Linked DNA regions of Homo sapiens: region 1 is linked to region 2. The links come from fine-mapping of genetic effects on gene expression. A gene starts in region 2. The other region holds a variant in brackets. All regions are shown on one strand. Distances are between the middles of the regions.

The links. PIP is the estimated chance that this variant, and not a neighbour inherited with it, causes the effect.
Region 1: its variant is fine-mapped to the expression of RANGRF in whole blood (INTERVAL, PIP 0.97).

Annotation. Positions count from the first base shown.
Region 1 is chr17:8,156,205-8,159,109 of GRCh38, reverse strand. No RefSeq gene overlaps it. Among named protein-coding and RNA genes, the nearest start is that of PER1, 5.3 kb to the right of the region's middle. RefSeq lists silencers at 55-104, 2,575-2,834 and enhancers at 225-464, 2,015-2,074. The variant G/TTG (reference allele first, on the strand shown) is at 1,354.
Region 2 is chr17:8,287,261-8,290,165 of GRCh38, reverse strand. RANGRF (RAN guanine nucleotide release factor) reads right to left here and starts at 1,496. Exons shown (of 5, transcript NM_016492.5): 1 at 1,301-1,496; 2 at 1,094-1,210; 3 at 752-908; 4 at 578-663; 5 at 79-353. The coding sequence starts at 1,377. The coding sequence ends at 230. SLC25A35 (solute carrier family 25 member 35) reads left to right here. Exons shown (of 5, transcript NM_001320870.2): 5 at 1-105. RefSeq lists enhancers at 774-843, 1,124-1,243, 1,604-1,833 and a silencer at 994-1,043.

The DNA of each region.
Region 1 (2,905 bases), 130 kb after region 2:
TTTTGGTTGGGGGAGAATAAGATCTTTTCTTAACCAATGGGAATAATATTGGATCGGAAGGTATACCAGGAAGGTTGAGAAGATACATTGGTAATGGACTGGACTTTGCAAGAGGCCCTGACCTTGGGCAGGGCAAAGTGTGATTCTCAAAGTGGCCACAGGGGGGCACTAGGAGTTGGTAATGGGAAGTGTCATAGCCAGCCCGTGTCTCTAAGCCCGGTGCGCCCTGTGGTCTAGGGTTCCCAGCTTTCGTTTCCCTTTACTGGGGCATGTTCCTGCTGTTGGACTCCTTTCTACTCCTCGATTTAACTTCTAGACGCTCTGCCGTGGCTCCCGTGCAGCAGTAGATGAAGTAGTTGGCCATTTCTGTGAAGCATGTCTTCCCCTCTGTGCCTAACCCAGTGCCAGCGCCCAGATGGGGTTAGTAAATTGTGGTTTAAATAGGCTCACAGAGACAAAGCTGAGTATGTTGTGGAGCTGCCTGTAGATGGCCTACTACCCCTGTACTCTGTTGTATGACTTGTGACTTTAGACCCCACACTGAACTGCCACAGCCTGTAGGTCCAGGAGGCCCCGATGTGGCATCTTAGTATCCCTGTTCCCAGGTGCTTCAACAATGAGTGGCCGGCCGCGGTGGCTCACGCCAGTAATCCCAGCCCTTTGGGAGGCCGAGGTGGGCGGATCACGAGGTCAGGAGTTCAAGACCAGCCTGGCCAACACAGTGAAACCACATCTCTACTAAAAATACACACAAAAAATTAGCCGGGGATGGTGGCGGGCACCTGTAATCCCAGCTACTCGGGAGGCTGAGGCAGAGAATTGCTTGAACCTGGGAGGTGGAGGTTGCAGTGAGCCCAGATCACCCCACTGTGCTCCAGCCTGGGTGACAGAACGAGACTGTCTCAAAAAAAAAAAATCCACTTAACACGATGTTGAACAAATGAGAGTATATTTTAGGTAGAGTGTGGTGGCTCACGCCTGTAATCTTATCACTTTGGGAGGCTGAGGCAGGCAGATCATTTGAGGTCAGGAGTTCGAGACCAGCCTTGCCAACATGGTGAAACCTCACCTCTACTAAAAATACAAAAAACTAGGCGTGGTGGCATGCGCCTGTAATCCCAGCTACTTGGGAGGCTGAGGCAGGAGAATCGCCACCGCGCGCGGCCTTTTTTTGCTTTGAGACAGTCTCACTCTGTCACCCAGGCTGGAGTGCCTTGGTGCAATCTCGGCTCACGCAACCTCCGCCTCCTGGGTTTAAGCAATCCTTGTGCCTCAGCCTCCTGAGTAGCTGGGATTACAGGTACCCACCACCATGCCCGGCTAATTTTTGTAGGGATTTTTTTTTTTTTTTTT[G/TTG]AGACAGAGTCTTGCTCTGTCGCCCAGGCTGGAGTGCAGTGGTGCGATCTCGGCTCACTGCAAGTCCCGCCTCCCGGGTTCACGCCATTCTCCTGCAGTAGCTGGAACTACAGGCGCCCGCCACCTCGCCCGGCTAATTTTTTGTATTTTTAGTAGAGACGGGGTTTCACCGTGTTAGCCAGGATGGTCTTGATCTCCTGACCTCGTGATCAGCCCGCCTCAGCCTCCCAAAGTGCTGGGAATACAGGCGTTAGCCACCGCGCCCGGCCGTCGTTTTTTTTTTTTTTTTTTTTTTTTTTTAGAAGAGACAGGGTTTTACCATGTTGGCCAGGCTGGTCTCAAACTCGTGACCTCAAGTGATCCACCCACCTCAGCCTGCCAAAGTACTGGGGTTACAGGCGTGAGCCACCGTGATTCTTATAATTAGGTACACAATCATTACCAGAATGTCCAACTTGATTGAAGTCTTACTATATGCCAGGCAGTGCTCAGGATTTCGCACTGCCAACTCAAATTCCTTCCAGGTTTAAGAGTTCCCATGGGCCCCAGGACCCGCCTGCTTTATGGTGTCGGGGACTTGGGTTCAAGTTTTCGCCTTGTTACTGACTAGCGTGTTACAGGCGAACAGATTACGTAACCCCCCTGCATCTCGGTCTCATTTGTGAGGCGGGGGGAGTATGTGAGCTGGCCTCCTCAGAGTTTGTGAGAAGCGCCTGGCCTGGCCCGCAGAAAACAATCAGGAAGAGGCTCTCTTATTTTCATCGTCACCAAGACACCGTGCTGAGATCTGAAGACCGCTTCACCCTAATACTCTCACCTTCCAGCTTCAGGGAGCCTCGGTGGGACCCAGGGCCGGAACCCCAGCGCCAGAGGCGCCCTAGTCACGCCCGGGTCTCTGTACAAAGTGCGCCTTATACGCTGCCACCGCTCACGGCTGCGCCTGCGCAGATTTAGCAGCCGTGGTTAAGAGTGTCGTCAAGGAAAATCCCCAGCTTCTGGGTAAACAAGTTGCCGCGTGAGACCGCCGGCACGTGTACCCTACAGCTCCAAGACCTCTCAGCCTATGAGAAAGCTTGGAGAGCGGGACTGGCATTTACGTCACCAATCTTGGCAGGTCGGGGGTTATTTCCCCAGCCAATAAGAACCTCAGAAGTGTCGAGGGCGTGGCTTCCGGTCAGGCTTCCAATCCCCGCGTTGGGGCGGCCCCTCTCTCACGTGTATCTCTCCCGCCCCCGTTGGCCTGCTGACCAATGAGAAGACGATGGCGGCCGGAGGTGCCAATGGAGGCTGTGCGGGGGCCGGCGGCTGCACGCGGCACGGGGCATGGGTCGGCGCCCCTAAGCCAATAAGCGTGGGGGGCGTGGCAGCCCGGCCCGTGGGCGGGTTTGGAGGAGCCAGTGTAATGCTAGAAGTCCTAGAAGAAATTTGGAGTGTGCGTGCGCGCCGAGCGGTGAGTGCTCGGGGATGGGGGAGAGATGCGGGGCGATCGGTGTGGACTTTTCCGGGGTGGTGTGGTCGGTTAGGAAGGTGTTAGAGTGTGTGTGTGTGGGAT
Region 2 (2,905 bases):
CAAAGGGAATCGAGAGACCCAATTCCCAGGCGTCTGGGACCCAGGTGTCCTGTTAGATTCAAAGGCACAGAGATTATATTGATTATAAAGCAAGTTTATTCTGAAGAGGGATTGTCTTATGTTTACGCACAGGGAAGAAATAAGAGGAAACCCTCTTTTCAACCTCTTTTCCCCCTCACAGAACCGAGTCCCCAAGTTCTCAGCAACATCATGCAGTGCTTCAGCGCCTTTACTGGGGACCAAAGATGTTAGGATCGTGAAGGGTCAGACTGGTCACCAGCTGTTCAAAGTCACCCAGGCTCCAGGGTGCAGGTGACAGATTTTCGGGGCCAAGAGATGACCTGTTGTCAGGGCTTGGGGTGGGGGAACAGATGGAGACAGAACATCATCCAGGCCTGAGGTTTGGAAATTGCCAATTCCTGTTCCCCAGAGGACCTGGGTATCAGTTACCCCAAACCTCTGGCCCACTCCTGCTTCCTTGGAGGATCCCACCAGTGAGTCTCCCTGTTCTGTCCCTCCCAGCCCGATTCTCCTGGGAACCCAGTCATGAGATACCCGCCCGTTCCTTCCTCCTTACGGGGGCTGATTGAAGGTAAGCAAGAGATCAGTCTGGTACTGGGGCAGCCTCAGCAAGGCCTGATGAAGTGTCACGTCCTTTGCTACCTAAGGGGATCAGAGTCAGGATGCTTACCTGGATCTCTGCGTCCCCGCTACCGCCCTTCCAGGACATTACACACTCTCGGGCCCTCACCTGCTGGTTTTCCTTAGCTATCTGCTGCTTGCCAGAGAGGACCCAGGCTTCTTGACAGCGGCCCCTCAGGGCCAGGTTCTCCAAACTGAGAGGCTGAACAGACTCCACATGGACAGCCCTAGCCCCCTGCACGCCACCAACATCCTCAAAGTGGTACCTGGAGTAGGGAAGCGGGGTCAGGAAGGGACATCTCTGGTCGCCTCCCCGGGAGCATCTTTAAGTTGCAGGCCTGGCTCCCGGCCCGTGCGTGGTCTCACCGCCCGGATTAACCGTCGGCCGCGGGCCCCGCCCACTGGTCCGACCCCGCCCCTGCCATTGGCCAGCCGGGGGCCATTCCCTCACCGCGCAGCCGCTTCGCCCCGTACGTGGGCCTGCAGCTCGAGAAGTTCCACTATCAGGCTCTGGTCCGTCACGGGATGGCAGAAAACTTCTTGATTGTCCGGGACCGGTCGGAGGTCGCTGGAGTGAGGCGAGGCAGACCCTGGTTGACCCCGGTCTCTTCCCACAACCCACCCAGTCAGCCGCCCCTGGGCGCCCCGGCCTTCTCACCTTACGTCAATGGCCCCCATGGGGAGGATGGCGGAAAAGGCGCCCCCGAACAGCGGGCAGTCTCTCGTGGGCTCCATGGGTCTGAGGCTGGGTTATGGGCATTAGAAAGGTTTAAAAGAAGTCCACATTGGGTCACGTGGCATCGGCTCCCTGGGTTTCGCAGCTGCCACCGCCACCCGGGTCTGGCTTAGCTCCCGGATCCTTTAAGATTTGGCTCCGCCCTGCGCTCTCGTTGGCCAATCGGCGCCAAGACCCTGGGGGCGGGGGTCAGCGGCTTTGCTCCGGAAGCCGCGCTCTTAGGAGTGCGCCTGGCGGGACGGTGGGGTCTGCCTTGGGGTTGGACTTAGGGTTAGGGTCTATGTCGCCCCCGGTGGTCACGAGCATGCTCCCGCCAGCCTCCTCTTGATTGATTGATTGATTGATTGATTGACAGGTCTCGCTGTGTCGCCCAGGCTGTAATGCAGTGGCGCGATCACCGCTCACTGCAGTCTCCACCTCCAGGACTCAAGTGATACTCCTGCCTCAGCCTCTTGAGTGGCTCCTGCTCCCGCCACCACGCCCGGCTAAATTTTTAATTACTTGTAGAAATGGGGCGGGGTGGGGAGTGTCTCCCAATCTTGCCCAGGCTGGCCTCAAACTCCTGGACTCAAGCGATCCTCCCGCCTCGGCTCCCTAAGTGCTGGAATTACAGGCGAGAGCCACAGCGCCTGGCCTCCTCGTCCTTTTCAAGTGGTCACACCTTCCAAGAAGGTCGCCTGAGACCCTCCTGAGGGGCAGGTGCTCGTCAAAGGGGCCCACGTCTAGGTAGGGTCTCTTGAGTCAGGAAAGCATAGTTTCACGGTGTTCTGGGCCTCTGAAAGAAGAATGGGCTGCCACCCAGACCGCTAATTCATAGATCTGCTGCTGGGAATTAGGGGAACAATGCGTCCAGGTTAGGATTCAGGTCTCACATCTTCCTGAAAGTGAGAGCCAACCTGGGTATTAGAAATCTAATTCCTCTCAAATATTTGCCTTGGGAATGCTCCCGGGCAGGTGCAACCCCACCCCCAGCTCCACACACCTGGACAGAAGCACAGATTAAACCCTCTTTTGTTTGTCTTTTACAGATTTGTTGTGTTCTTTAAGTTTTAACTTCACTATATCATTTCAGTTCATTTCTCTATTCATCTTTGATCCTCAGCACCCGGCACGGTGTTTAGAGCATAACAGACCTGATATATATTGGGTTTTTTTGTTTTGTTTTGTTTTTGAGATGGAGTTTCACTCTTGTTGCCCAGGCTGGAGTGCAATGGCATGATCTTGGCTCACTGCAACCTCCGCCTCCTGGGTTCAAGCTGTTCTCCTGCCCCAACCTCCCAAGTAGCTGGATTACAGGCATGCACCACCACACCCAGCTAATTTTGTATTTTTAGTAGAGATGGAGTTTCTCCATGTTGGTCAGGTGAGTCTCGAACTTCCGACCTCAGATGATCCGCCTGCCTTGGCCTCCCAAAGTGCTGGGATTATTACAGGCGTGAGCCAGCGTGCCCAGCCCAGACCTAATATATATTGTTAAGTGATTGAATAAACTCAATGCAAATGTCTGGAACCCAGGAGATCACCCAT